Regions from separate parts of the Homo sapiens genome. Here all the other regions are reported to be linked to region 1. Evidence: microRNA targets listed by miRTarBase, many of them from high-throughput screens and not tested one by one. Region 1 holds a microRNA gene; each other region holds the end of a gene's coding sequence.
Evidence for each region. Region 1 holds the annotated microRNA hsa-miR-124-3p (UAAGGCACGCGGUGAAUGCCAA, at 1,349-1,370, shown strand). A microRNA usually pairs through its seed, bases 2 to 8, with sites in the 3' UTR of a target mRNA and lowers its output. Matches are read on the target gene's strand: a 7mer-m8 pairs with bases 2 to 8, a 7mer-A1 pairs with bases 2 to 7 and ends in A, and an 8mer does both.

Region 2: the mRNA of AFAP1L1 is a reported target of hsa-miR-124-3p. Seed matches in the 3' UTR shown: 7mer-A1 at 3,643-3,649.
Region 3: miRTarBase lists MYO19 as a target of hsa-miR-124-3p. Seed matches in the 3' UTR shown: 7mer-m8 at 4,292-4,298.
Region 4: the mRNA of CCN5 is a reported target of hsa-miR-124-3p. The part of its 3' UTR that is shown has no 7-base or 8-base seed match.
Region 5: miRTarBase lists FAM120A as a target of hsa-miR-124-3p. The part of its 3' UTR that is shown has no 7-base or 8-base seed match.
Region 6: the mRNA of FGFBP1 is a reported target of hsa-miR-124-3p. Seed matches in the 3' UTR shown: 7mer-A1 at 485-491.

The regions. Positions count from the first base shown.
Region 1 is chr8:9,899,769-9,904,768 of GRCh38, reverse strand. It overlaps MIR124-1 (microRNA 124-1), which reads left to right and starts at 1,297; the gene lies at 1,297-1,381. It overlaps MIR124-1HG (MIR124-1 host gene), which reads left to right and starts at 1,440. Exons shown (of 3, transcript NR_024281.1): 1 at 1,440-4,080; 2 at 4,157-4,214; 3 at 4,483-4,705. LOC124902057 (a long non-coding RNA gene) reads left to right here. Exons shown (of 4, transcript XR_007061170.1): 3 at 141-237; 4 at 582-699.
Region 2 is chr5:149,339,281-149,344,367 of GRCh38, forward strand. AFAP1L1 (actin filament associated protein 1 like 1) reads left to right here. Exons shown (of 19, transcript NM_152406.4): 19 at 727-4,357. The coding sequence ends at 750. Among named protein-coding and RNA genes, the nearest start is that of GRPEL2, 3.7 kb to the right of the region's middle.
Region 3 is chr17:36,491,947-36,497,033 of GRCh38, forward strand. It overlaps MYO19 (myosin XIX), which reads right to left. Exons shown (of 26, transcript NM_001163735.2): 26 at 3,690-4,460. The coding sequence ends at 4,305. It overlaps ZNHIT3 (zinc finger HIT-type containing 3), which reads left to right. Exons shown (of 5, transcript NM_004773.4): 3 at 867-953; 4 at 1,980-2,060; 5 at 3,277-3,876. The coding sequence ends at 3,458. Among named protein-coding and RNA genes, the nearest start is that of ZNHIT3, 7.8 kb to the left of the region's middle.
Region 4 is chr20:44,726,389-44,731,475 of GRCh38, forward strand. It overlaps CCN5 (cellular communication network factor 5), which reads left to right. Exons shown (of 4, transcript NM_003881.4): 4 at 699-1,423. The coding sequence ends at 919. All of the region lies in intron 3 of KCNK15-AS1 (KCNK15 and WISP2 antisense RNA 1), which reads right to left. Among named protein-coding and RNA genes, the nearest start is that of CCN5, 14 kb to the left of the region's middle. RefSeq lists an enhancer at 321-846.
Region 5 is chr9:93,563,473-93,568,559 of GRCh38, reverse strand. It overlaps FAM120A (family with sequence similarity 120 member A), which reads right to left. Exons shown (of 18, transcript NM_014612.5): 18 at 2,448-4,331. The coding sequence ends at 4,020. Among named protein-coding and RNA genes, the nearest start is that of PHF2, 11 kb to the left of the region's middle. RefSeq lists a silencer at 1,728-2,147.
Region 6 is chr4:15,931,160-15,936,246 of GRCh38, reverse strand. FGFBP1 (fibroblast growth factor binding protein 1) reads left to right here. Exons shown (of 3, transcript NM_005130.5): 3 at 1-670. The coding sequence ends at 319. Among named protein-coding and RNA genes, the nearest start is that of FGFBP1, 5.0 kb to the left of the region's middle.

The DNA of each region.
Region 1 (5,000 bases):
TGAGAAATTGATGAGAAATTGACATGTCCGTGCACATGCATGAGGCGGCGACAGGATTTGTGTGTAAACAGTGTGGAGAGGTGGAGGAGGGCATGGGGGTGGGGGCTTAAAATGATGTCTTATTGTCCTTTTGGCTTTAGGGACTCTCATCCTCTGTCTCGCCCCCTTTTTTTGACCCGGGGATCCAGCCGCATTATACACGAGTGACCTTTTAAATCTACGTCCACCCTTTACCTGGTAAAGCCCGCTGACAGTTGGGGGTGGGGTGGGGAGAGTGTAGGGGTGCTCTCTCCCTCTCTCCCTCCCTCCGCCTCTCCTCCCTCCCTCCCCCCTGCACTCCTCTCTCTTCCTCCCTCCCACCTCCCTCGCTCCCGCCCTCCCTGCTGCATTTTGCATGAGCTATCTAGGTCATTAGCATTTTAGCGTATGCAAGACTTGACAAAGCTGATGAGGGGCCAGATGGGCCTCGCTCTTATGGTTTTTTTTTCTTCTTCTTCTTCTTCTTCCTCTCTCTCTCTCTCTCTCTGTCTCTCTCTCTCTCGTCTCTCTTCCTTTCCCCCCTCCACCACTTGGGACCTGAGCGAGAGGACTGCAGCAGGCGAGTTCCGGAAGGCTGAATCCCCAGGTCCCAGCCCCGGACCGCGGCAACTCGCCCCTGCGGCACGCCCGGCCCGGCTGCGCCCCCACTCAGCGATGGAGGTAAAGAGGCGGCGGCCGCGCGCCCTGCCCCGGCTGCCGCTGCCGAGTCCCCGCTGCTCTCCTTGTCCTTCGCTCTCTTCTTCCTCCTCCTAGTCCCCTTCAGTTTCCTGGGCGAAGCAGAGGGCGACATGGGTGGGTGGGTTGCTGCGCTGGGGCGAGGTGGGGTCGATGTTGTTTTTTCATTGTCTGGAGCTGCAGGGGAGGCGAGGCGCGGGGAAAGGGGCGAGGGGAGCCGGGGTAATTAACACGGGGGAGGCACCCCTCCGTCTCCCACTTCCACCCACACCCCCATCCCTCCACCCCCTCCGCTTTGCAGGAAAAAGCCTGGATGCGAAAGGATGGGGGAGAACAAAGAGCCTTTGGAAGACGTCGCTGTTATCTCATTGTCTGTGTGATTGGGGGAGCTGCGGCGGGGAGGATGCTGTGGTCCCTTCCTCCGGCGTTCCCCACCCCCATCCCTCTCCCCGCTGTCAGTGCGCACGCACACGCGCCGCTTTTTATTTCTTTTTCCTGGTTTTCTTATTCCATCTTCTACCCACCCCTCTTCCTTTCTTTCACCTTTCCTTCCTTCCTTCCTCCTTTCCTTCCTCAGGAGAAAGGCCTCTCTCTCCGTGTTCACAGCGGACCTTGATTTAAATGTCCATACAATTAAGGCACGCGGTGAATGCCAAGAATGGGGCTGGCTGAGCACCGTGGGTCGGCGAGGGCCCGCCAAGGAAGGAGCGACCGACCGAGCCAGGCGCCCTCCGCAGACCTCCGCGCAGCGGCCGCGGGCGCGAGGGGAGGGGTCTGGAGCTCCCTCCGGCTGCCTGTCCCGCACCGGAGCCCGTGGGGTGGGGAGGTGTGCAGCCTGTGACAGACAGGGGCTTAGAGATGCAAACAGACTCAGGGAGAGAAACAGAAGCTGATTCTGTGACAGAAGCAGATCTGTGCAGCACAGATGCGGTGTGCGTGGGGAGGGGGTCGCCTGGGAGCGCATTGCGGAGTGCTTGTGTGTGCAGATTTTTCTCTGGGCTCAGGACTCATTGTATGTGGGTCAACACCTTCCTCCGTGACTGTGTTTTTGTTCTGAGCTGAGTTTTTTGGTTTGCCCTTAAAAAAATAATAATTTGGCATCCAGAGACTGGCAGACTGCCTCAGGGCCTGGACTGCGGATATATTGTGTTCTGCTTGAGGTTTGGGGAGGAGGGCAGGCGGTAGGAAGGGAGAGGGGGAGCTGTTTGTCACACTTTGCTGTAGAGCTGAGAGCACCTGACAAGCTTAAGGAAGTCGTTGGGCTATGTGGACAAGAAGGAGCCAGCTCCCAGCGGGTTCACAAGCTCTATCGGAGTTGAAAGCGTGGTCATGGCTCTAAGGAGCACCTCACGCCCTCCCTGTAGCTGTTATTGCAGTTTCAGGCAGAGATCCAGGAGCTGCAGAGGAAGGGAGAGGCACAATAACCTACATGGACCCAAGGGAGACATGTGTTCCTTTAAAAATGTGAACAGAAGGAAAAACAGAATGTGTGCAACTGGGGGTCTGAGGAAAGACTGTTTTGAAAGAGGCTGTCAGGGAATGGAAAGGGTTAAGCTTTTCATCCTGAAGAACCTGCTTCCCAAATCAGGCCTTCCTCCCATCACTAGACCCTGAGCAGCAGCTGGTCCTAGAGACCCCCCTCGTACTGCGCTGCCACAGTCTCATCCCATTTCCAGCTCTGTATTAACCACCAAGCTGCAGCGGATGGGGCAAGACCTAAGCTCATTAATTTCCAGGTGGAGGAAATGGAGGAGGGGCAGGTCCCTGCAGTAGAGGGAGGAGCAGAGAAAGGAGGCCAAGAGCTGGATCCTTCTGCCCAGGAAGCCTGCTGCATCCCTTCCCCCGAGCATGGCAGAGGCCTGGCTTTGCAAGGCCAAGGCCATAAGGGATGCTTAGGAGATTAATTTGATTCCTGACACAATAATCAAGCCCTAAGAGTCTCCACTGAAGCTTACTGAGGACTTCTTTCCTCTCCAAAGCCTCAGTCTAGCCTGCTAAATAAATTAGTATTCAGTGATGCCTTGGATCAGGGCCCCTCCCCGGCCTCAGTTTCCCCAAATATTTATTAAGTACCTACTGTGTGCAATCCTTGTGTAATTATTAACTCTTAGGCTCTTCATTTGCCCTCCTAAAGCAGTGTTTAGAGTCAGGCAGAGGTTAAGTGTGTTGCACCTCACCTAGATACTTCCAGAACCTTCTCTGGGTCTGCAGAATGTGGCACAACCTGCTTGCCCCCGCAGAGAGAAAGCTGCAGTGCACATCCTGCAGACTGCAGGTGCTGGGCTGCCTCTGGAGTCCCAGAAGGCAAGCTTGGCTGCAGGACAGAAAGGGAGAACAGCTTCTCTCACCCCTGAGCCTTCACAAGCCCTTGTCTATTTGCCGTTGCCTTCAAAATATACCTCCCCCGAAACCAGTAGCTTTCTGAGTCCTGGTGTCCCCTCCGCCCTTTCTGGACAGGTTTGGGAAGAAGAAAGCAGTCAGTGCTGGGCCTTATTGGGGTGTGAAGCGCCTTGCTCTGCCCCTTCTGCTCACTGTGAAGGCCGCTGGATGCTTCTCTTAGGCATGGTTTAAGCCTCCGATTACTAAACCCCTTGCCCCACAAACGTCCACATTGACGAGCCTCTTTTTAGTAACTGCTTCCCCGTAATTCCTTCAGAGGTTGCTGTACCCTTCGCTGATGTGCTGCCCTCCTGTAAAACCTCCAGATGCCTTCCCACGTAATGCCCCTTTCAGATGCTTTAAGCTGAGAGCTTAAACCACAGGTACCATGGCTGACGCCTGCCAGGTTTCTGCTGCAGATAATCTATGATGGGAGGGGCATATTTTTTACTTCATTACTTATGTAAACTCTTGTTCCAGAAAGCTTTAATGTGTGTGGGAGTGTTCTGGGTCTATTAGGTCTGTGCGCATGGGTGTGGGCATTTGCCTGTGTCCACCGGGTGGGTCTCATTATGAAATGTATGTTTATGTAGGGCTTTAATGGCTGAAAATGGCAAAGAGATGAATAGACCACTTGGCCCCATGTGTAATTGCCAGGCCCCTTCTGTGCTCAAATGAGGTGTCCGAGTGAAGGTCAGCCCTTCCCTTCTGTATTTGGGGCCTATTTATGCCACCAGTAATTTTATAAGAAATCTGAATAGTTCTCCCCTTTGAGTGCATTTAACTCTTTAGTATCTTCTCTCTTACCTATTTGAGCCCCTCTAGCTACAGTCTGGCTTAAATGAAAGGGGAATTATATGCTTAAGAAAAAGTAGGACACGGTTGAGGCAGTTTGCTGACTGAATACGCGAAGAAGGACCTGATGGGCTCATATGCACCACTGCCATCACAGTCCCCATCGTGATGCAAGCTTATATGATTCTTGAGGTAACTCTACCAGATACTTCCAGATTTAGAAATGTGTCAAAGGAAAAATTGGTGATACTCTTCTTTCCCCTGCCAGAAACAGCCCAGATCTCCTCTTAAGCGGAAAAGAGATTGACCTTCTAGCAGAGGCAAAGGTAAACTCCTGTAAGTTACTTCTGTTACCAAAGGGAGGGGGGCGGCTTTTGTGAATGTATGAGGAGCTTTTGCCAGAGAGATATTCGGAGGAGGGGTGTGCCCATATGCACACATATATTTTCCCGCATAACCGTATCCAATGCTAGCATTTAGAGGAAGGCATTTAGCCACCAAAAGTCCATCCATCTATGCTGCTTCCACAGAGAAAACATTTTCTCTTTCCTCCTCTTGAACTTACATAATATCCTCCTCCCATTCCAACCTTAGAATGGAGTCTTCTGGGGGCAGCTGCAAAGCGTTCTCCCTAGGACAGATGGAGCCTCCCTTTCCTCATCTACTCTGTGGGTGGTTTCAGGGCCCACGAGTCAACATGAGGAGTTGTGCTGGTGGTATGTGTGTTGGAGGCTGGGCTGGCTGATTCACAGTGACGAGGATGTCAATAATAACAAGAATGAGAATGATGGTACCTAATAAAGACTTTTTTTCCCAAGTCCCATCTACAATTCTTTCATTGGGTGTTTTGCCAAGTCTTTCTCAATCTCATCTCAGCTTTTTTTTTTTTTTTAAAGAAAATGTATTCAATACTTAATTGCATCACAAATGTAGACATAGAAGAAAGGACTTCAAACGGAATTTATGGGAGGCAATGTGTGCGGCTTTTTGCCTTATAGAGCTGTGTAGAAGGTCTGGAATGATCTTCCAGCACCAAATTTAGATGGCCTCAAAAAAAAAAAAAAAAAAAAAAAAATCAGGCCTTATTGAGGGCAAGGAATGTTCCAGGTCAG
Region 2 (5,087 bases), not on the chromosome of region 1:
CCAGGTTCAAGCAATTCTCCTGCCTTAGCCTCCTGTGTAGCTGGGATTACAGGTGCACAACACCACACTCGGCTAATTTTTTTGTATTTTTAGTAGAGACGGGGGGTTTCACCATGTTGGTCAGGTTGGTCTCGAACTCCTGACCTCGTGATCCGCCCACCTCGGCCTCCCAAAGTGCTGGGATTACAGGCATGAGCCACGGCACCTAGCCCAATAAAACTTATTTACAGGCACTGAAATTTGAATTTCGTATCATTTTCATGTGTCATGAGATAGTCGTCTTCTTTTGATTTTTTTTTCCAAACATTTAGAAATAGGAGCTGATGGATTATATGAGAATGGACAATAGGCCAGACTTGGCCCACAGACTATCATTTACCAGCCTTTCATCTAAAGCCTTTCAGGCCACTGAGGAACCATGGATCTTGTTCTAACATAATGGATCTTGTTGTGACATGATGGAAGGTTTTGAGCAAAGGGTTTTGGATATAAATTACATTTTTTAAAGACCATTCAGGCAACTATGTTGAGAATGGATGAAGGGACAAGAGATACCAGCATGGAGAAGTGACTTACTCAGGGCCACAGAAAGAGAGAGAGGGGGTTAGAACCCAACGCAACCTGGCTAGTGGAGATCTTCATCTAACTAGGTGCCGTGAAATCTCTTTATCCATGTCACACTAGACCATTCAGCAAATTGATTTGTCTTCTCTTTCTGTGCTTCAGGAATGGGAAATGAAGAAGACCTAGGAAGAGGATGAGGATTTCATTCCAAAGGAAATACCAGCTTGTCCACCTGAGGAAGAAATGCTTTTTTCACAAGGAGACACCAAGAGAAGACTAGGAAGTAGCCCTCGTTCTCCAGGGCACCCAAAATACCAGCCTTTATTGTCTGCATGATTTTAGGGGATATGGGGAGGGAACAAGTAGAAGGGAAGAGGGAAATGGAGAGCATCCTTATGACTTTACAAAGGGTGGAAATGAGGATGGAGGGATACAGAAGTCTGCACAGCTGTAAAGGTTTTATAGATGTCTTTGCCTTCCCTTCTGAGGAAGGGAAGAAGTAATGAAAGCACATGTGAATAACCCCTTCCATCCCATTCACAGCATCGCACTCCCAGTCCTTAAGGCAAAGGGAGGCAGTGCTGAAGCATTGGTGGTGCAGTGTAAAGAGACAAGACCTGATCATCTGATCACACTTGTGCCAACTTGATTCATATTGGGCATTACTAACAACCCCTGGTCAAGGTAAATAGGTTGAACAATCAATAACATTATCCCTGCCTGCATACATGTGAACAAAAGCTATAGAGGACATGCAAATTCTACAGTCATTCCTCATATGCTTTAGACAGAGTGCAGCTACTGGAATCTTCCAGATTTCAGTGTTTTAAAATCAGAGCTCTGAATACACAAAAGGAAAGAGAAATGGAGCAGCTGACATATTTTAAGCTCACAGTGATACTCAGTGACAGGAGCACAGAGCTCTAATGTCCACAGGATGTTGTAGGGTAGGGTCTCTCAGTAAATCAAGTCCCTTACCTATGTTCTGACACTGAGGCTCTTGGAGCTATGGGTTAGAAATCCAGGAGGCAATATGTCTTTATTCTAATGAAGTCCTCATCTTGCACTCAGAGGCCCACTAGTTTGCCCTTCTATATATTAAGTAAAACCAAGAGAAATTAAGAGGATGATGGCTTCTTTCTGTCACATGGGTGCTAAACCTTTTACAAACACTTGATACTTCTATAGAGGGACCAAGGACCTCAAGTCCTGGGCAGTCTCCTTACTGTGCTACTCACTACTGTCTCAACACTGTAGTGAGTCTGTCTTTAACACATTTCCTTCCAATAAAGATAAAACCACTTAACTCTTAAGTGCCAGTGCTTAGCTCAAGAGGAAAGAAGGAAAATCCCAGAATAACCGTGGCCACTTTGCTATAGGGGTTACATATTTTAACCCACCTAAGGTTTTACAGACTTTAGCCTCACTCAAACTTTATCACCCTCTGAGGTAGCTGGAGACCACAGCAGGAAAAATAACCTGACCAGTAATCACCCACTGATTAGTGGCAGAGCGTAGGACTTAGGGGTTATAAGCCCAGATCCAGATAGGGCTAGGTTTGAGCCATGCCTCTAATGACCAGCTGGGTGACCTTGGGAAAGTCACTTGATTGCTCTGATTCTTGTTTTCCTTATCTGTGAAATGGGACTAACAATTGTTACTTTTCTCCCAAGATTGTTGGGAAGATTTAATAAGATAATATATAGTAGGCATCTTGCATAGTGTCTGAGAAATAAGAAATGCTCAGTCAATAGTGGCTCTCATTAGCCAGGCATGGTGGTACTCGCCTGTAGTCCCAGCTACTCAGGAGGCTGAGGCAGGAGGACCGCTTGAGCCCAGGAGTTTGAGACTGTAGTGCACTATGATCACGCCTGTGAATTGCCACTGCACTCCAGCCTAAGCAAATAGCAAGACCCCATCTATTAAAAAAAAAAAGTGGCTATTATTAGCTATATCAGAAATGTCTGACTCACAAGCCTGTGTTCTTTCCACTGAAGAGGAAATTACTTTTCAGTGTTCTTTTTTAAAACGTGGATCCTGAAATGTCACCTAACTCTCCAACTATGTCTTCAGTGTCTGTCATACTCTTTCTTATGCAGTTATTTTGGGGTTAAGTGTCTTTTCTCACCAACAGATGAACTCTCAGAGGAGTGGCTGGGGGTAATTAATAATTAACATTTATCAAGCACTCACCATATGTCAGGCACTGTGTCAGCCATGGCCAGCTTCACAGGCATGCAACCTGTGCAGTCACACAGGGCCCCATGCTTAGAAGGGCCCTGTTCTTGGTTTAATGCTCTACTATTGCCTTCTTAATCATATTTGAACAAGGAGTTCTGCTTTTCCTTTTGCCCTTTAAATTAGATAGCCAGTCCTGGTGCTAACTAACCACTTTTCTAGGTATTATCCCTTTAGTTTTCACTGAAACCCTGAGATAAGTTATATTGCCCTAGTTTTCACAGTTCAGGAAATGGAAGCTCACAGAGGTCAGGTAACTTGTCCAAGCTCCCATAGTTCTTATATTTACATGCTGGTGGAGCCAGCATGTGAATATAAGAAGTCTGACCCTAGAGCCTTATTCTTAATTTTAAAGCTCTATGTCATCCATATATCTCCCTCCCCTTGTACTGCAACATTCAGAAGCACACTAGCACTTAATAAATAGACGAATGAATGCATGGATGCAAGCAGCAACCTGGTGAACGTTAGGCAGCTAGGAGAAATGTAAGCAAAATGGCTAAGGCACAGATGCCACTTGTTCTTGGTTGTTAAAATGCCTTGTTTAGGCCAGGTATGGTGGCTCATGCCTGTAATCCCAGCACTTTGGGAGGCCGAAGCGGGTGGATCACTTGAGGTCAGGAGTTCAAGACCAGCCTGGCCAACATGGCAAAACCCCATCTCTATCAAAAATACAAAAGTTAGCTGGGCACGGTGGCACATGCCGGTAGTCCCAGCTACTTGGGAGGCTGAGGGAGGAGAATCACTTGAACCCGGGAGGTGGAGGTTGCAGTGAGCCGAGATCGCACCACTGCACTCCAGCCTGGGCAATAGCAAGACTCCATCTCAAAAAAAAAAAAATGCCTTATTTGGTTGTGTTTTTTCAAAGTGTAAGCCACAGGTCTAAGCCCAACACTGCCAAGTGTTCAGTCTGTCAGAATTCTACTGTCACTGTTTCCTTATTGCGGGATCTTGCATAGGTTTACCAACCTTTCTGAGCCTCAATTTTCTCATATGTAAAAGAGAATCATAATACCTCCCTAAACCATATCACCCTTTTCATAAGGCCAAAAAGAAAATATAAGTTATTGGTCATGACACATTTGAGTTGGACCTCGGATTAGATAAAAAGATGAAAATACTCCAGCTCTGTCCTCATGGAACTCAGAGACAAGCAGGAAAGAAAATGTGACCCAAATAACTACAGTACAAATAACCCATGTTATGACAAGATTCAGAGTGCTCAAGGAACACTTCCCATTCCCTTAAAAAAAAAAATTAAGGGACTATCCAGTAACTAAGCTGGCAACTCCAAGTGCCCTGGACCCCAGTCACCAATCCATCCTCTCAGTCTGTCAGCTTTCCATCCTAAATCTCTAAAATTCATCCATATCTTCCTATCTTCACTGACACTATCCAACTTAATTAAGTCATTCAACAAATACTTGAGTACCTACTATACTAGATGTCAGAAATCAGTGGTGAACAAGACAGACACCTCATGAAGCTCACATTCTAGTTGGAGGAAAAAACCTTAACAAGGAAGCAAAAGAAATAAAATACTAAGAAACTAAAAGGGTGCTGGACACAGTTACTTTACAGTGGTTAGGAAGGTCTCTCTCTGTTCTTCCAGGACAGAATATAGCCCCATCTTGCCTGGGCTACTGCAACATATTGCCTTCCCTACCTCTTTTCTTACACCTTGCAATCTGCTTCACACAGCAGTCAAAGTGACTCTTTAAACATGAAAGCCTTTGTCACATGTTCCCTGTCAATCTAAAATAATTTAAAAGGTCAGAATCTAGTTTAAAGAGAGTTTATTCAAGCACAAAGGTTGAGGATGGCCTGCCCAGGAAGCACAGAATGGAAAAATATGTCTGTCTTAAAAAAGATGGAAGTCAGTGTTCCAAAGTGTGAAAGGTTGGGTTCAGTGAGGTTTAACAGAATTTCAACATCTTTCTATGCAAGGCTTAATGCACAGTTACAATGATCTGAGTAGTTAAGGTGGTCTTTTTCCTTCAAGAAAGGTACATTTAACATCACATCCTGCAGATGTAACTGTCATGGGGTCAGTTCAGTTCAGGGCACCATCTAGTCTGAGTTAGGTGCAGGACAATAAAGGAGGCTGTCTATTACAAACATCAGTAATTGAGAGGGAAGAAATCTGGTCTCTGCTCTTTCCTAGTCATTACAGAACAAGAACAATGAGGAAGAGAATTAAGCTATAATTCTAAGAAGCAGAACTACAAAACATGCTACATGGACTCAGACCACAGCCACATCTCTCTCAAAGCTTCAAGTATTTG
Region 3 (5,087 bases), not on the chromosome of region 1:
AATTAACAGTCTCCATGTCATGGGGGCTTCGTAAAGGTTCATTGAGCCACTATGTATCTCACTGTGTACCTGGCACAGTGCTCGGCACTTAGTCACTGGCAGCTGTTGTAACTGCCACCTACATGACTAGAACCTTTCCGTAGCATATTGTCAAATCTACATTTTAAGTCTCTACAATCTGGTCCTGCCTTTATGTCCTCAGAACCCTTTCCTGTGACTTCATGCTCTGTTGATACTGTCACCCAGGCTGGAGTGCAGTGGCACAATCACAGCTCACTGCAGCCTTGACACACTGGGCTTAAGGGATCCTCCTGCCTCAGCCTCCCAAGTAGCTGAGACCACATGTGTGTACCACCATGCCTGGATGATTTTTTTTATTTTCTGTAGAGACATAGTCTTGCTAGGTTGCCCAGGCTGGTCTCAAACTCCTGGGCTCAAGTGATCCTCCCACCTTGGCCTCCGAATGTTAGGATTACAGGCGTGAGCCAGCACAGCTGGCCTTCTGTTGACTCTGTAAGTTCTTTGGTGGTTTTGCCCCTAGTTTTATCCCATCTGGTATCTGGTTTACAGCAGCTATTTCAAACACCTCAGTTAATTGTGGTGAGAATTTTGTAAGATTCGGCAGGGTAGGGAGGATGGGGACAGGTTCTTGGGGTGCATGAATGAGTCCTGCTTTCTCAGCCTGCTGGCGGTTTTCCTTAATCTCTCTCTTGCTTTGATCTCTCACTTCTTCCACATTCCTGGGCACCCACCCACATCCCTTACCCCAGACACTTGCTTCCTACCTAGATGCTACCTTGGTAGGGAGGTGCAGCCTTGTCGCTGAAATGGAGGTAATGTGGGCCTGGGATTTGTGTCTTTTTCAGAACAGTGCAACCCTGAAACTCGTCCTGTTGAGAAAAAAATAAGATCAGCTCTTCCTACCAAAACCGTAAAGCCTGTGGAAAACAAAGGTGGGTTGGTTGACTTCAAACAAATCTACAAGGGACTTCACATAGAATAAGTCGAAGGAAAAGGGGAGAGTGGGGCTGGTCAGGGAATCCAGAACAATAGCTTCATTGGGAAGGAACAGCTTCCTTAGCCTTGAGCATCAGGAGTGGGGCCATGTCATCATGGGTGATATTGAGGCAACAGCCTGAAAGCAGTATTCAGGAGAAGAAAAATGGGCAGAAGACAGAGATGAGAAAGGCCATGGCTGTGGTTTGGGGGTTTGCGGTGGGCCCTGCTGGCAGGAGCCTTCTCTAGCCCATAGCTGCTGGTCTCCCTCCATGAATCTGGCTGGGACTGTCAGTTCACCTGAACTCAGCCCAGGCAGGAGGCTTTCTTTGTCCTAGATCATCTCGCTGCTGCTGGGGGTTCAGAGCTCACAGCAGTAGTGGGCTGTCAACCCATCCGTCCAGCCATCTAAACGTTCTTTAATACCTCCTGGGTGTCAAGCACCATGCCAGGCTCTGAAAGCAGCCCCTCTGGTGCCACCAAAGAGGTATTGAACATTCACTCCAAAGGCATGGCCCATTTTTGCCCTTTGAGAAATTTCCAGGTTGGGTTCAGGCAATGCCAGCAGTTTCTGCCCATGCTGAAAGCACAGGAGATTCTACTTGGCTGGTTTTTACAGAGCATCCAGTTAATTGGCCCATCACAGGGTTGGAGCCATGTTGAGGTGGGGATGGGTATTAAGTTATTAGACAACCGGGGTCTAAGCCTAAAGACCACAGGACCACATATACAGTAAGGATGTGAACACTAGAGTGCATTTGTTAAAATCACCAATTCTTTCACTTAGCCTCCCTCTTCTAAAAAAGGAGTGTTAGTATAGTCACAGACTCCGGAGAAGAGGATTTTTGTCTGTACCTGCTTGAATACCCCTATCACTATCACATGTGCGTGCACACATTTTTATCCTGTTCAAGTAGTGGTTAAAATCTGGTGCCCAGGCCTCCTTTTTAGCCATGAGCCATTGACTGTTTTGTATTCCTTAGATGATGATGACTCTATAGCTGATTTTCTCAATAGTGATGAGGAAGAAGACAGAGTTTCTTTGCAGAATTTAAAGAATTTAGGTAAGTCTGTGCTATGCTTGTCAATCGTTGAGATACATTTACTGTGTTGTAAGGATTGTGATTTTTTAAAAAGTTTTTAATTTCTTGAATAAGTATGGCATGTAGGGCTCTTACTATCTAGCCACATAATCTGTAAACATACAGGGTTTCACACCTCCCAGCCTGCCCACACCATTCCTTCTGCCTGGAATCCTGCTGGTCTTGTGGGTTGGCAAAATTCTGCTCCTCCTTCAAGCCTTGGTTCAAGTTTTCTTCACTCAGCTAAGCTTTTCTTGACCTTTTGTGTCTCTTTCAGAATTAGGCACTTTTTTGGTTTCCCATAGCAACTTGGACTTAATAGTAATAAATCACTGTTACATTTCATGGTAATTTGTCTCTCACATACCGATTTGTACAGCAGGGACCTGTATTCCCAGATCCCCAGTGCTCAGCTCACAGTCCAGCCCTTAACACAAACTGGTTATCACATGATTTGATTTAGGGGGAAACAGGTGTTGCCATTTTTGTAGCACTGCTTATTCAGTCCTTACAACATTCTGTTACATGTGCATGGGGTCTGTTAATTTCATTCTTCCCATTTCACAGAATCATGTTAAAAGGTTATGTTTTGCACTTAGTCTCATGGTAATGATTAGTTAGACTGAGTTTGGAGATGAGCTAGTAATAGGTGTGAAAAATTTTACAGACTGTGAAGTACCATGCAGGTATTATTGTTGGTTCCCTGCTACTGGTGCTGCTGCATGCCAAATGGCATGCTTAGACATCATTCAGATTATTTCGTATAGCCGTCTTCACCACTGGCAACTTTTATGGCTAGAAAGAAAGAAAACATGCCAGCAGCTTAATGCTACTATTTGCTTTGTGATTGTGCTGATAAAGCATTTTTTTCTTAGCTGAAGTGGCACGAAGTTACAATATTTACAAAGATACCAAGAACTGGTATCTGTTACTGCATTTAATGCGGAAATAGTTTGATATGCTGGTCTTACCTTTCATTTTATAGAGGTGGGGTCTCGCCATGTTGCACAGGCTGGTCTTGAACTCCTGAGCTCAAGCAATCTGCCCACCTTGACCTCCCCAGTTGCTGGTATTACAGGCATGAGCCACCACACCTTGCTGATAGTTTTATTACACTTGAAATAGCTCTTCACTTTTCAGCCATCTCCATGTGTTTCCACTTGAACTCAGACTGGCTTTTTTTCTTGTTAATTTTTAGGGGAATCTGCAACATTAAGAAGCTTATTGCTCAATCCACACCTCAGGCAGTTGATGGTCAACCTCGATCAGGGAGAAGACAAAGCAAAGCTCATGAGAGCTTACATGCAAGAGCCTTTGTTTGTGGAGTTTGCAGACTGCTGTTTAGGAATTGTGGAGCCATCCCAGAATGAGGAGTCTTAAGATGGATTATTGTGCTGCTTGCTCAAGCGTGTGCTTGACTCCTGGAACCTGCCTGCTCCCTCTCCCAGACCAGCTAGTTTGGGGCTGGGGAGCTCAGGCAAAAGAGGTTTCCAGGATGCAGATTAGGTCATGCAGGCCTTTACCGGCATTGATGTGGCTCATGTTTCAGGCAGACTTGGGGTCCTTAAGGTGGCAAGTCCTTTATGGAGAGAAAACTTGACATTCAGATGATTGTTTTTAAATGTTTTACTTTTGGTACAGTTGATAGACATCATAAACGATATCAAGCTTACACTTCATATGGAGTTAAACTTGGTCAGTGTTAATAAAATCAAAACGTGATTCTACTGTACATTGCATTATTCATAATTTAATTGTTTGAAATTACATTAAATAAATCAACTAATTAAATACTAAAGTTTTGTTCCTTTTTAAAGGAAATAACCACAAGATTTTTCCCAGCCCAAATTCCAGCGCCAATTTTAGGCCAACTTTGGCTGTTTTCTTCCAAAAGTGCTTATGTGGAATTGGGATCCCCAGTGTAGTGACAGACAGTCATGACTGCTGCTGAGTTTGATCTGTGAAGGTAGTGAAATGTGGCCCTGATGTTTCTTAACCCTGATTTGGTAACTACCAGCCCTGACACCATCAGTGCTTGATGTAGCCTGGAACCCCAGGCCCACTGACGCACTGGGCACGGGGCTCTGGGTCGAAGGCTGGAGCCGTCACTGTTGTTCATGTGCATTTGGAGCACTGTGGGAATAGTCTGGCAGCTGTGTGCTGATTAAATGTCTTTGGCAAGGCAGGGGGCAGGAAAAGGCCTTGTGGAAACAAAGGCACCAAGGATCACCCCAGCCCAGTGAAGGCAGAAGAGGTCACGTGGATCAGCCTGTGTCTTTCCAGCAGAATCTGATTAAAGCCTGTAATGCTGTAGGGTGAAGGTTCAGGGCAGATGTCAGCATACCGCAGTGGAGACTTTCTGCAGTGAAACTTTATCGATCCCTAGAGGGGAGAGAGAGATGCAGCTTTAGCACTAGTTCCTGGGAGTGCCAGGGCCTAACAACCCCACAGAGCAGACGCTAAAAATGCAAGAAGGTATGGACAAGTACTAGTATTGGGGGCCACAGCAGGATTAAAATAGCATTACATCCACTCAGTGTGAGACAGATGAGGAAACCCTAGGAGGAGGCGCTCCCTAAGAGGAATGTCTGTCACATTCCTATGACTGCTTAAAGCCAGAAGGGCAAAACATTTACCCTTCTGTTTAGCAGGCCTGTGTGTTTTCATGGGAGACTTCATCCAGATTAAGGCCTATAGTTATTCCTCTGAATGGAAATTTGGTGTTTCCTTCTGCCTTGTCATTTCACTTACTCCTTGCTGTGACTCCATGCAGTAGGTTGAGTATTAGCCCATTTTATAGACAGGCTCCGAGAAAATGTGTCTTAGCCAAGATCATCCAGTGAATGGGGCAGAACCAGGATCCAGACCCTGGGGTTCTACCTCCCAGTGCAACATACTTTCACCTTTCCTCGGCCACTTTAATTCTATGAGGCCTGGCTTACTGGGGTGACTCACAAAGCCCTGAGTGACAATGACTTCCTGAGTGTGCTGGCTGACTTTTCCCTGGAT
Region 4 (5,087 bases), not on the chromosome of region 1:
AAATCAGGGTTTCTCAACGTCAGCACTAGTGACAATTGGGGCAAGTAATTATTTGTTGGGGGGGTTTTCCTGTGCACTGCAGGGTGCTTAGCAGCATTCCTGACTTCTACTCACTAGATACCAGTAGCATCCCCCCAGTTGTGATCACCAAAACTGTCTCCAGATATTGCCAAACCTTTCCTGGGAGGCAAAATTACCCTAGTTGAGGACTTCTAGTGTAAGACTAGAAGGAAGGACACCAAAATACTCACAGAGGGAGACTTGGAGCAGAGAAAAAGCTAGACCATGGTGAACCTGCCATCTTGTTCCTGGCACAAGAATCCTGGAATCTTTAGCATCCTTGCCACTGGGCCAAAGCACCACTCCACACAGGCTGGGCACCCCCTGCCTGTAAAATGCTGTTTATCCAAAGAGACGAGAAAACCATGGTTCACTGAGGGACCATCGTGACCAACACACTCTGGTTGCCAAATAACTAATATTTATGGAAATCTTACAAGTACCAGGTACTGTGCTAGGCACTTCATGCCCATTATTTTATTCAATGCCATCCACTGTTAAGAAATTTACATAACAAGAAACTGAGATGCAGAGAGGCTGAGCCATTTGACCAAGATTGCCGTGGCCGCTGGCAGGTGGGTTGATTGAGCTGCTGAGCCCTGGCTGCTCAGTGCTAACTCTTGTTCTTTCCCCCCTAGGACCCCAGTTTTCTGGCCTTGTCTCTTCCCTGCCCCCTGGTGTCCCCTGCCCAGAATGGAGCACGGCCTGGGGACCCTGCTCGACCACCTGTGGGCTGGGCATGGCCACCCGGGTGTCCAACCAGAACCGCTTCTGCCGACTGGAGACCCAGCGCCGCCTGTGCCTGTCCAGGCCCTGCCCACCCTCCAGGGGTCGCAGTCCACAAAACAGTGCCTTCTAGAGCCGGGCTGGGAATGGGGACACGGTGTCCACCATCCCCAGCTGGTGGCCCTGTGCCTGGGCCCTGGGCTGATGGAAGATGGTCCGTGCCCAGGCCCTTGGCTGCAGGCAACACTTTAGCTTGGGTCCACCATGCAGAACACCAATATTAACACGCTGCCTGGTCTGTCTGGATCCCGAGGTATGGCAGAGGTGCAAGACCTAGTCCCCTTTCCTCTAACTCACTGCCTAGGAGGCTGGCCAAGGTGTCCAGGGTCCTCTAGCCCACTCCCTGCCTACACACACAGCCTATATCAAACATGCACACGGGCGAGCTTTCTCTCCGACTTCCCCTGGGCAAGAGATGGGACAAGCAGTCCCTTAATATTGAGGCTGCAGCAGGTGCTGGGCTGGACTGGCCATTTTTCTGGGGGTAGGATGAAGAGAAGGCACACAGAGATTCTGGATCTCCTGCTGCCTTTTCTGGAGTTTGTAAAATTGTTCCTGAATACAAGCCTATGCGTGATCTTGTGTGTCAGGCCTGTGTTTTCTGAGAAAGCCCTCCCATTATCCGGGGCAGAATTCAGGGGCAGAGTTCTCTGTGAACCTCACAAGGTGAAATCACATGGTCTTAAAGAAAGCCAGAAGACAGGCCTTCAAGTGATCCAAGAAACCCAATTCATATTAATAATAATTAACTTTTTTATTTATTTATTTTTTTGAGATGGAGTTTTGCTCTTGTTGCCCAGGCTGGAGCTGGAGTACAATAGCACGATCTCGACTCACTGCAGCCTCCCGGGTTCAAGTGATTCTCCTGCCTCAAGACTCCTGAGTAGCTGGGATTATAGGCGCATGCCACCATGCTCGGCTTTTTTTTTTTTTTTAAATATATTTTTAGTAGAGATGGGGTTTAGCCATGATGGTCAGGCTGGTCTCGAACTCCTGACCTCAAGTGATCCGCCCGCCGCCTCGGCCTCCCAAAGTGCTGGGATTACAGGCGTGAGCTACTGCGCCCAGCCAATAATTAACATTGCTTGAGCGCCTGCTATGTGCTAGGCACTAGCACTTTATACAGACCAGTGCTTCCCAGCGTTTTTGACCAGAGAAGAGCAGGGAGAATGAAGGCTGCCTCCCAGGGACTGGGGAGCATAGCCTGAAATCAACTAACCCAAGGGTGAAATTGTTCGAAGTCTCATGTTTTATTGTTTACAAACAAAACAAAACAAAAAACAAAAACAAAAAAAAACACCCAACACCAAATACATATATTTTACATTTTCCTCCATGGTCTACCTGTGTTTGTTTAAAAAGTAAAACTGTATTTCCATTAGGATCCAAGCAGGAAATTAGAAAACACTCTTGGTATTTAAACAGGGATTTCTTCTTATTAAACTAATTTTATTAAGGTATAATTTACCCATAGTTAAATATACAGATTTTAAGCATATGGTTTAACGAGTCTTCATAAACGTACACGCTCATGTAACCAACTCCTCAATCAAGGTATAAAACATTTTCATCATCTCAGGGAGTTCCCTCTGGCTCTGTTCCAGTTATCCCCCTGCTCCCCAAGGCAACCACTGCTCTGATTTCTATCACCATAGATGAGCTTTCGTGTTCTTGAACTTCTCATTAATACAACCATACAGCAGGTACTCTATAATGAATGACGTCTTTCACTCAACATAATAAAACAAAAGGAATTTAATGAGAGGACTTAGTCACCCATCTGAGAGGCCAAGTAGGGGACCGTGTGATGCAAGAGGAGAAATTCAACACCAGACCAGCCCTCGGGGCGGAGGGGCAGAGGGAGGGCAGAGCCCAGAGCTGGCACCAGCAGGCAGAGGAAGAGGACCTGGCAAGGCTGTCTGCTGGGAGCTGCAGCCGCTAAGGAGACACAGCCTCGCAGACCTAACAAAAAGTAGATGGAGGTGGGGAGACCTGCCCTGGCTTCTGCCTGCTGCTATCCCCCAGTTTCCAGTTATGCCTCCCATGAGTCGAACCTGCTGGGAAGGTGGAAGAGAGGGGAGCCTGGGAGATGCAGGACAAGGAAGGGCAGGAGGGTTCTGAGAATGAGGGCAATTCCCAGACACAGTGTTTGTAAATTACCCACCCCAGGTACGGTTGCTGGTCACAGAGGCCCCTGCTGCCCAGCCCCCAACACTTATCTCAGGTATCACCCCCTCCAGAAACCTTAGTTTGAGAATCACATGCTGAGTTTGAGCCATGTAACCTTCACAGAGCCCCTGCATGGCAAATATAACTAACTCCAGCTCAGGGATAAGGAAACACCCGGGAAAGCGAGCTGTCTAAAAGCTGGTCTGCAGCTGGGGTGGGATGCTAGTCCAACCTGAGTTTATCTGACTCTTGAGAATGGCTGTTGGTCTCTCACAGATTGAGAATTTCCATGGGTCTGGTTCTGCAAGGATAAACCCTAAACACATTTCCAGGCAAAATTCTGATAACATCCCCCAAAACAGGGAGAACACGGACAAGAATGAGGAATGTGCACCGAGGGACTCCCATACATAAGGCTCTCTCTGCCACGCACTCTGTCCACACCACTGCACGTCATCCTTGGGACATTCCTAAAGGAAAGTGCCACTAATACTCCCTGTTTAGAGATGAGTAAACTGAGACCCAGAGTGATTAACAAGTTACCCTGGAGTCGTGGAGCTGGGACTCAGGCCCATGACCTCACAGCTGAGCCGCCACTGTGCAGTGGTAGAGTGAGTGGGCTCAGCCAACCTGCCCAGGTGTGCATCCTGGCTCTGCTATTTCCTAGTGCTGTCATCTTAGGCAAAGTACTTAACCTCCTTGTGCCTCAGTTTCCCCTTCTTTAAAATGGGGATAATGGCAATACTCAACACAGAGGATTGTTGAAAGTGTTACGTGATTTACAAAAAAACTTAGGGCCGGGCGCGGTGGCTCACACCTGTAATCCCAGCACTTTGGGAGGCCAAGACGGGCAGATCACTTGAGGTCAGGAGTTCGAGACCAGCCTGGCCAACACATCAAAACCCCGTCTCTACTAAAAATACAAAAATTAACTGGGTGTGATAGCACACACCTGTAATCCCAGCTACTCAGGAGGCTGAGGCACGAGAATTGCTTGAACCGGGGAGACAGAGGTTGTAGTGAGCCGAGATCGCACCACTGCACTCCAGCCTGGTGGACAGAGCAAGACTCTGTCTCATTAAATAAATAAATAAATAAATAAATAAATATTGGAGGCCGAAAGATTGAGGGTCATGATCAACTCAGTATACCACTGGAAGCTATATGAGTAAGCAGCAGACTATTTCTCATAAATGCAGAATGTTGGCAAACTGACAAACTGTTTCTGCCATCCAGAAGGAATGCTGAGGGCAGTCACGCTCCAAGCATAGTGTTTCTTGTGATTAGGCCTAATTGAAACCTGTTAGTAACAATATGAATCTGTGATCAATCAACCAGCTAACCAGTCATTACCTCCTCCTCCCTGCTCATTCTACCCAATAAATAGGAAGGGCTGTGGAAGCTCAGGGACTGCCTTTGCTCACTAGAAGCAGGGAGTTCTCTTCTTCTTCCCCTGGCCCTTTCCTTTACAACAGTTTCTTTTGTCTTAAGTTTTCATTTCTACATTCGTCCCCTCGTTCAGTCCTGTAATGAAGTCTCAGGCAGTAACAGTAGTAACTGCTGTAATGACGGCCTCAAGTAGTAACAGTAATAACTGTCATAGTGACAGTCTCAAGTAGTAATTGTGGTAGTCTGCAACAAAATAAAATAAAATAAAATAAATTTTAGCAACCGTTATCCTAACTCTTGGCGCTTTAGTTTTTTGATCTGTAAAATGGGAATAAATAGTAGTGCCCACCCCACAGGATGGCTGTATAAAGTGAGTACCCGGCTGTGTGCAGTGGCGAGCACGCCTGTAATCCCAGCACTTTGGGAGGCCGAGGCGGGCGGATCACCTGAAGTCGGGAGTTCGAGACCAGCCTGGCCAACAAGGTGAAACCCCATCTCTACTAAAAATACAAAAATTAGCCAGGCGTGGTGGCACGCACCTGTAATCCCAGCTACTTGGAAGGCTGAGGCATGAGAATCACTTGAACCCAGGAGGTGGAGGTTGCAGTGAGCCAAGATCATGCCACTGCACTCCAGTCTGGGCAACAGAGCAAGACTCTGCCAAAAAAAAAAAAAATAGTGAG
Region 5 (5,087 bases), not on the chromosome of region 1:
CTGTATTCCCAGATAGCCTCCACTCATGGCTGCATCACTTGCCCATGCCACCCATCTCCCCATCTTTTCTCATTTTCTTGCTTGAAATATTCTTATTTGTACACATGTATGTTGTCCCCCTACTCAAATGTAAATGCCAGAAAGGCAGGGGCCTTGACATCTTCTGTCCCATGGGGCCTAGGGCTGGGCCTGACACGGACTCTCCGCAAGTGCTTGCAGAACAAGGTAATGTCCAACCATGCTGGTGGGGAAAGACTGAATACGTTACGATGCAGCCCCACCGTGGAGTCTGTGGAACTATGGCAGAATATGGAATGGTAGGGAAAGGCAATCATCAAATGATGCTAAGTTGGGAAAATGTTACAAAATATTAACATGATTTTTTTTGTATAAGAAAAAAATCTATATATTGTATAGAAGGAGAGAGACCAAATGTTAAAAACAGGTGTCTCAGGATGGGGGAATTACCGAGGACTTCTTTTCCTTTTTGTGTATCTAGCCAGTATTTCTTAAACTTACCACAATAAACACATATTGCTTTTGAAACAAGAAAAAAAAATCAGTAAAACCTATTTTTTTGAAAAGGAAGAGGATAAATGGCCAGGCAGCAGAACATACGACTTGCCCCAGGATATCATGCTGCCAGGAAGGAGAAACACCAGCATCACCATTCAGTCCAGCCCGCACCAGTGCCACCCACAGCCACTGACCCCTGGGCCCATGACAGCATCGCCCTTGGGCCTTCCTCTGCAATTCTGGTGGTGTGGAAGGAGTGGCCAGCATGGCTCCAGCAAGGAGGGATGTCCTTGGCCTCCTTGTTCCAGCCACAGGGTCGCCGGAGCCCCAGCACCCTCTCCCTTCCTCTCTCCTTAATGCCCACGCCTGCACCTACTGGAGCTTCAGGAGCGGGTGGACAGACCCAACTTGGAGCTAAGGGTTGGGTTCCAGCCCAGTCCCTGCTGAGAGTGACCTAAAGCAAGCTGTGCTGCTCTCTCACCTACAGCAATTGCAACTAAGAGATGAGAACCACCGGAAAGAAGGAGCACCTGCTTGTCAGGGAGCAGAGAGGGACCCTTGACATGCGCGCGCTCCTGCTGCTGAGACTGTACTGTTCAGAAACCTGTCCCTCTCCCCTCTTAAAGCCAGAGGGCTCTCCCTGTCAGTTTGCTATTCTCAAGTGGCGTGGGCCTGCCCCTTGAGAGAGGGAAGAAAAGCGCGTGGTTGTCACGGTGGGAGAGGTACTGCCTAGCAATGGATGGTGGAAGCTGGTGGGCCTGGAAAGTGTTCCTCCACAACGCTGTCCCTCTGCCAGGCACGTGCGATCCAGAGTGGGTTAGACTGGTTCCCGTCACAGGCAGGGTCCTCAGTGGAATGGTGTTTTTGAAAGATGGAGCGTCCGGGCGCCCCCATCTTCTCACAGCACAGAGAAGGGGCTGGCTGGCCCGCCACCGGGAGGCTGGCGCAGAGGGACTCAGCCGTGGCCCCGGAACAGCGGGCCACCGTCAGGAACCGGCGAGTCAGGGTGGGAAGAGGCCCTGGAGTGAGCGAGGCTAGCTTCACTTCCTTCAAACTCTGAAGGCCCACCCCATAAAAAGAAGGGGTAAATTCGTCTGGGGTCTGAACAGCCAGGACCAAGAGCGCTCTCAGGCTGCTAGTTGGAGAAACTGGCTCGGCTCGGGCCTTGCTGGGACTCGGGCTCCCAGGGTCTGCTCGGTCTCTCTCGGGGCACTCGGGTCTTTGCTGGGCCCGGCGCCGGCCCCGCACAGAGAACCGGCTTCAACGGCGCAGTCTCAGCCTCCGGGAGGAAAAAGCTGGGAGTAGGCCTCACTGACACGGCCCCGCCTCGCGGGCTGCGCGCGCACCGGGACCTGCGCGGTGGCGGACGGGGAAGCGCCACGCAAGGCCCCGCCCCGCCCTTCCACAGGAAGGAAACGCGCCCCCGGGCGAGCGCCAGCCCCTCCCTGGAGCGGGATCGCCGCAGCTCTCCTGGCCGCCTCCGGCGCCGTTAGCCCACCATCCCCCGCTAGAGGGCAGCACGGGGCGCTTTCTCCAGGCGCTCGGCGGACCTGGGTACGGGGACCTCATATCAGGCTGCAGAGAAGAGCCTTCAGTCAAAAGGATGGCATGAAAAACGGACTATACTTGTAACATCCAGCTTTTAAAACGTGGTGGAGTCAAATTTATTGCTTCCTCAGGGCTTAAAAAAACCTCTTCTGTAAGTCTGCTTTATCAAACAGAATTTTTTTATCCCCTTGGTTGCTTGAAACTGAGCTATCAAACAAATTAATCATATATTAATGTCCCTCTAAGCCGGAAACCTGGAATTACTTTGAAAAGGTAAAATATTTTTCAACTTTGGTTTTCTGATCTTTTCAGTAGTTGTTTCGATTTGAATTAAACCTCTATAAAATTAGCTTTTACAAGTGAATTTAAAAGCCACGCCATACTTTATACTAAAAGAATAAAGATTTTTATTAAGCATTGTAAGTTGCATTCAATAGCCTTCAGATACACCACACCACAATCCATCGACAGTCAATCAAACCCAACAGCAGTTCATTCTTGCACAATCCATGAGTTAGGGCAAAACTCCCTTCAACTTACAGTAAGATCCTACTTAGCTCTTGCGGGCAGGGGTTGGGGAATTACACCTCATTTCTGATCACTAATGTGATGAAGAGCATCAGAAGTATATGAAAACGATAAGAAGTGATTCTGATTTCAAAGTACATTGTTTGGAAACATTAACAAAAACATCAAAATGATAGAAGTATACCTGCTTCTACTAAATTCTTGATGGGAAAGTTCTCAAGAACAAGCAATTTGTTTCCTGCTACAGAAGGGGGGGGTGGTTTTTTTTTTTTTAAGATCAAAGGGTTTTTTTTCACAGAATTTCATATTTGCTAATATGAAGGCATAAAACAGCAACAAAGAACAATAATGCATACAGCAGTGAATACACCAGGGTAATGTTGATATTCGAAACGGCTAGATAATTTTTGGGGGGCTTTAGAATAAATGCAACAGAGGTCAATAATCACAAAATTTTAAGGTTAGAGCAAGATCAGTCAATGACTAAACAGAGTTAACATCTTTTATAGGACTATTACTGATTATTAGCATTTTTGTTTTGCAAATGGGCACATACTGTTAAGAATGGAAGAAAGGACGATAACATGCATATTAACTACACACTTTAAAAATTATGAACCATGCAGAAGTTTAGCTCAAGTAGTAGTACTAATGGTCTACATCCGATTCAAAACCACATAGTTCATTGATCACAGATGCATGGTATTAGTCACGAAAGTTTCAGAACACATTGTGTTGATTTTGAAAGGTCATTTGCATCTTCTATGATTTCAACTTTATCTCCATTTAACTTGCTTGTAAAGTATGTATGATGTATTGTATATTTAAAATCAGCAGAACGGCAATATTACTCTATAATTTTTTAGTTTTGATAGTTGCACTTTTTTTTTTTAACACAAAAGAACCACATCAACAGTGATGAAATTTAAGAAAGAAAAACTGTGGTTGTGCCTTATTTCTTTCATAATCATAAAAATCAAAGCCTTAAAGAAAGCTTCATTGTGAAACAGTAATGCAAAATCAAATATAATGGCATACATATGGTGCCAAATGCTAAAAATTATATTTTAAGCTATATATACTTAAAGACTGCCAAAATTTGTTTTCTTTATAGTTCAAGAAACACAACTAAAGGCTTTTGTCATAACCAGTTTAAACTTTATGTGTACTTCATTTTAAGTGCGGGAGTCAAATGCTCTTCATTTTCTTTCTCTTTTTTGTTTTATTGTAGCATTTTGACTACAACTGGTTAAAACTAAAAATGTGTTGTTTAAATCTCTGATATCAAAGAGGGATCTGAATTTCCAAAGTCCTCATTTTTCTCTTACGGAAAGGACAAAATGTACATAACTGCAGGCTCTCTTTCTCTCCAGATATTCCTAAATCCTTACCCTTCCAGCATCCTTCACCCTCTATAAAAAATAAGTTTACTCTTCTTTATTTAAGACAGCTGCCTCCAGAGCAGCTTCTCTGCGGCAAGCGCTGTCTGTACTTAGTGCATTTAAATGAGGATTTGTATTGCACGTTTTAGAGTCATTATTCAAGGCACTTTCAGAGTGGCTGGGGGCCCTGGCGTCACCCGTGCTCCCGTTCATCTGGGGAGCCGGCTTCTCCTCGGCCATCACTCCGTTTTCAGCCAGGGACCCGTCTGAAGACATAGCAGAGGACTTCGATTCCCCAGATTTTGACTTAAGTTCTTTGGCCACTTCTTCTGCTGAAGCAGCATAAGGAGGTCTGCCCTGTTTAAAATGAAGGACAACAAATGAGAAGGTGGTTTCTGATAAACAGAAGAGAGAGGATGCCAATTTTGGCCTAATGACACTCTCTGCAGATTCAAGAGCAGAAAATGCCCAGCTGGGTCCTTCTAACCCTGTCTTTGCTTTGACTTTTGGGCGGTAGATGCTCTACCTGTCTCAGTCAGTTCCCTCCATGGCCCCTTCCCTCAACTCCTCTGTAGTTAACACCCTGAAAATGAGGGAGATTCCCCCTTCAGGAGCTCTGTCTAATCCTTTGTATGGCACTAAATTGTTTAAAGTAACAAATGCCCCTCAATAAGTCCTCTCTAAAATTGCGACTGTTCCCACTGCCACAAAACAAACAGGGTCTCCCACATCTGCCTGTGATGTGCAGCAGCACACACACCCCATTTCTACTGGGGAAATACAGTCATTGCTAGGGAACCTTAACAAGAAATCTGCACTGATAATTGCCACGTGTTTGTGAAATAACTCTTCTGAATGGGTCTTCCCCACTCCTCTGAACAGATTTAAAAATAAGCCTCTGAAAAAAATGGTCCTTGAGACTAATCCAGCACATTTTCTGAAAGACATGGCTCTCTGTGAAGGCAGTGAAGACAGATCTTGAATTGCTCCTATCATTAGACCAGGGCTCCTCAACCTTAGCATATGATACGCTGGCTCTGTCCACTCTCCGTGATGGGGCTGTCCCACACACCGTAGGGTGTTTAGCAGCACAAACATCATGTTGTCTTCACC
Region 6 (5,087 bases), not on the chromosome of region 1:
TTCCAAGACAGCTGTGAAAACCAGAGTGTGCAGAAAGGATTTTCCAGAATCCAGTCTTAAGCTAGTCAGCTCCACTCTATTTGGGAACACAAAGCCCAGGAAGGAGAAAACAGAGATGTCCCCCAGGGAGCACATCAAAGGCAAAGAGACCACCCCCTCTAGCCTAGCAGTGACCCAGACCATGGCCACCAAAGCTCCCGAGTGTGTGGAGGACCCAGATATGGCAAACCAGAGGAAGACTGCCCTGGAGTTCTGTGGAGAGACTTGGAGCTCTCTCTGCACATTCTTCCTCAGCATAGTGCAGGACACGTCATGCTAATGAGGTCAAAAGAGAACGGGTTCCCTTAAGAGATGTCATGTCGTAAGTCCCTCTGTATACTTTAAAGCTCTCTACAGTCCCCCCAAAATATGAACTTTTGTGCTTAGTGAGTGCAACGAAATATTTAAACAAGTTTTGTATTTTTTGCTTTTGTGTTTTGGAATTTGCCTTATTTTTCTTGGATGCGATGTTCAGAGGCTGTTTCCTGCAGCATGTATTTCCATGGCCCACACAGCTATGTGTTTGAGCAGCGAAGAGTCTTTGAGCTGAATGAGCCAGAGTGATAATTTCAGTGCAACGAACTTTCTGCTGAATTAATGGTAATAAAACTCTGGGTGTTTTTCAGAAATACATTCAAACATTGCTTGGTTTTCTCTGTGTCTGGTCCCAAATAAACTCATTAAGTAGTCCCCATATATCAATGGAAAAACAATCTAAACAGGAACTTCCAGTTCCCCACCCTTCGCAAGTTATCTCTTTCTGGAATCCTTCTTTATAATTGTATCCATTGGTCAGTGGTGTTTGGTGTTTATTGAAGTATAATAACTAGGATCCCTGTTTTCAGGTGGGACACCTGGTATATAATGTGATTAAATCATTTGTCAGGGACTCATAGATGGTAAGAGGGCCGGTAGGATTGGAACCCAGGAGCTCTGACAGCTGAGTCTACAGGGTTGAGGAACCTCCGCTACTGATTCATGTCAGAGCTGCCCATTCCCTCCCCCACCCGAAAGACCCCGGCCTTGCAAAGCTCAATTCTGGAGAAGAAATGAGTTTCATTCCTTCATTCTTCATTCTTGGAGAAGAAAGGCCTAGTTAAGTACAGTGGCCCAAGATAAGGGCTATAAAGGAAGGGGGAGAGGGCTACAAGGAAAACCAGAGAGAGAAGGCAGAAACTGCTGTAAGATCTGGGCTTGAGTGTAACAGGGGAGGGAATAGTGGAGCTGGATTTTGGAAAGAGTATCTGTGGGAATAAAATGGGGCAAAGTGGAGGCACTTTAGGCATTTGATAACATGAATGAAAGTGAATAGATGGGAAGTTTCAGATTCTGGGAGAGGTCAGGTGTCTGGGATCGGATGGGATGCAGCGATGAGACTGCCATTATTCATTTATATGTTAGTATGAAGGATCTGAAAGTTGTATTTTAAGAGTGGGGGAGAGAGGATGAACTGTCTCCAATGCCTTGTCACAATTCCACAACCAGGGAAAGGAGGAGCAGAAGCTGACGAAAGCACTGTTCTTTAGCATGTCTGATGGTGGCAGGGAGGAATGGCAGGTGGGGGGGAAGGAAAGCCTTTTACATTCACCAACCTACTGGGATGCACACTGAGGACGTCAGAGGCCAATCCACAGTGCCACAGCCTCAGAGTGACATTTGGATGTCATCATGATCATCAATAAAAAGAGCACTTATCTCTTACCTGCTATGAGCAAGCACTGTTCCAAGTTTTCCCATGGATAGTGGATTTATTCATTCACTCACTCACTCAACACATAACTTACAGAGCACTGACTCACTCCAGGTTGTGTTCCAGGTGCCAGAGATACAGCAATGGATGTACAAGAGACGAGTGTTCTGCCCTCATGGAACAGTGGGAAAAGTGATGATGAGCTCATGATACATGATACACGATAGAGAAGACTATTAAAGCAAGGGAAGGGGATAAAGTGATCGAGGGTAATGAGCTTTAGATGGGGTGGAGAGGAAAAGCCTCTCTGTGGTGGTTACTTTTGAGCTTAGACCTAAAAAGAGGAATCTCTTTTTAGCCAGGGAACTCTCCTGGGTAAGCATGTTCCAAACAGAGGGACCAGTCAGAACATATGCCCTGAAATCATGGTTAATCTATTTATTCAATCCTATTTGTCCCTTCTTTTTGCCAGGAACTCTACCATAGGTGAGAAATAGCAATGAAGGAAAGAGAAAAAAGAAATCCCTGTCTTCATGGCACTTCCATTCCCATGACAGGGATCATGCTTGGCATGTTAGAGAAATGTCCAAGAGGGTGGGGTCATTGTAGGATGGGGCCTGGGGCCTGACCTGTGAACCTTACCACCAACTCCAAGAGCACTGAAGCAACATTCCAGACCCTCCCCAAGCTCCTTCAAGCCACAGCAAAGAAAGGATATTTTCCCTTAAGGTCTACACAGGTTCTCAGCCCTGTGGCCCCCTCCTCCACATATGTAACATAGCCCTGAGATAGAAAAAGAATAATAATCTCCTCCAGGAGTCACTCAACAGTCATCAGGTTTGTTATGGGTTGGCAAGAACATTGGAGAACAGACCCAAAACCTCCTTAAACTCCTCCAGGCCCGCAGTTGCTGGTTTGAGTTCACTCCTGGCCTCTGGTCACTGGCAGAACTGGAAGGAGTTTTGCCTCTACCATGGAAGAGTGACCTGGATCTCAGCACAAAGTTTGCTTCTGCTGATAGATAACCAGTCTCAGGGCCAATTATTTAATCTTCTGAGCAGAAATGAGCTCATCTTGACAATGGAATCATGAAACCCACCCATTATTAAGGGTCCTGAAACACTGACATTGGTCAATATCTCTGAATCTCTTAATACTATGCCAATAGTTAGATAATAGTTGTTCAACACCACTGACCACTTAAAGTCCACAGCAGGAGACTGAATTGTAGAGGGAAGTCAAAATTCCCAGTGAAAACTCTCTAACTGTGGAAGGTTTTTGGTTTTGTTTATTTGTGTCTGTAGTACAAGTGGCCAGGAGCCACCATTATGGATCACCCACTGTGTGCCAGTGGTTTTGCTCCATTGTCTCGTGAATCCCCCACAACTCCATCTGGTAGGAGTCTCACCTTCATTTTCTAGATGAGGAAAGTGAGGCTGAGAGAAGCCGAGGAACCTTCCCAGGGTTATGAAGTTATTAAATGGCAGAGCCTATAATGGGAATCCCTGGCCTGGAGGTCCCAAGCCCTTTCTGCCTCTGAAGTGCATGATTTTCTTCACTCAGTGATAGAAGAGTGACATTTATGGTCTCTGGATGTAGGCCAAACTTGACAATGAACAATATCCATCAGTCCATTCCACATATATATCTTCTTCCTGTCCTTACAGAGAGAAAGTTCTAGAAGTGAACACTTCCATTGCACTCAGCCTCCGATCATAGTCATATGCTGAGGGGATGTTTTAAGAACACAGTAAAAAGAAATATGTAAATAGAGGCTCCACAGATTTACATTGACTTTCTTTTTTTACCTTTTTTCTTTTTCTTTTCCTCTTTTTTTTTTGAGACGGAGTTTCGCTCTCGTCACCCAGGCTGGAGTGCAGTGGCATGATCTCAGCTCACTGCAACCTCTGCCTCCCAGGTTCAATCGATTCTCCTCTCTCAGCCTCCCGAATAGCTGGGATTACAGGCACCTGCCACCACGCGCAGCTAATTTTTGTATTTTTAGTAGAGACAGGGTTTCAACATGTTGGCCAGGCTGGTCTTTAACTCTTGACCTCAGGTGATCCACCCGTATTGGCCTCCCAGAGTGCTGGGATTACAGGCATGAGCCACCGTGCCCGGCTACATTGACTTCTATTCACCTTAGTGCTACATATTTTCTCCCTGAGAACTTTCTGGATATGAAGTAGAGAAGCCAACTTTCTCTGTGTGTGTGGTCTTTAAGATATGACTTGTTTTGACAGCAAAAGATGGAAATTTTTCGGTAGGTAAGATGTGCTGAAGATTGGCATGTCTGTACCCCCTAAAGCCACTCAGAAGTGGGAATGTCTCTCTTTCCTTATAAAACCACATCTCGGCAGAAAGAGGGTCTCTTCCTTCGGGCACCCCAGCTCTGTGTGGTAACTCACAGTCACACCAGTGCTGACTTGAATCTCTGGAATCCAACAGATCTCACCTAGCCTCCTTCCCCAGCCTCTCTCCGAAGTTGTTTTTGGCAGAAATGGCAGGAATGCCAAAGTGTTTGGGGCTGAAAGCTTTCAAGCAGATATGACACCAGCCATCCTCTGATGTGTTGGTTTGCATAATGTGCTGTGTACAATGCTCACCATTTCATGCAGCAATATCCAAGAAAATCTTTTTGAGACTCCCTCTGAAGAATGGGAGGGATGGGGAGAAGATTCTAGAAGAAGGCTGGCTTGGGACCTGGAGCGCTTGAGGTGAGCTCTCCAGGGGGAGTTTCCATAAAGTAGTTGAAAATGTGTGATATGGTTTGGCTGTGTCCCCACCCAAATCTTATCTTGAATTGTAGCTCCCATAATTCCCACACATCATGAGAGGGACCCAGTGGGAGGTAATTGAATCATGAGGGGCAGGTGTTTCCCATGCTGTTCTCATGATAGTAAGTCTGATGACATCTCATGATTTCATAAAGGGTAGTTCCCCTCCGCAAGCTCTCTCTTGCCTGCAGTCAAATAAGAGATAACTTTGCTCCTCATTTGCCTTCTGCCATGATTGGGAGCCCTCCCTAGCTATGTGGAACTGTGATTCCATTAGATTTCTTTCCTTTATAAATTACCCAGCCTCAGGTATATCTTTATTAGCAGCAAGAGAACAGACTAATACAATGTAGGTAATAACAGCAGAAATGAAATCTGTCTTGTCCACCATCATAGCCCTGGTGCTCAGTGCATGCCCAGCACACAGTGGATCCTCCATAAATATTGGTTGAGTATATGAAAGAGAAGGAGAGAAATCACTGCAGGGGCAATGATTACGGGCTCCAGAGTAAAAGAAAAGTGACCTGTAACAAGTTATTTCATCTCACATTTTCCATTTCTAAAATGGGTCTGGAATATGC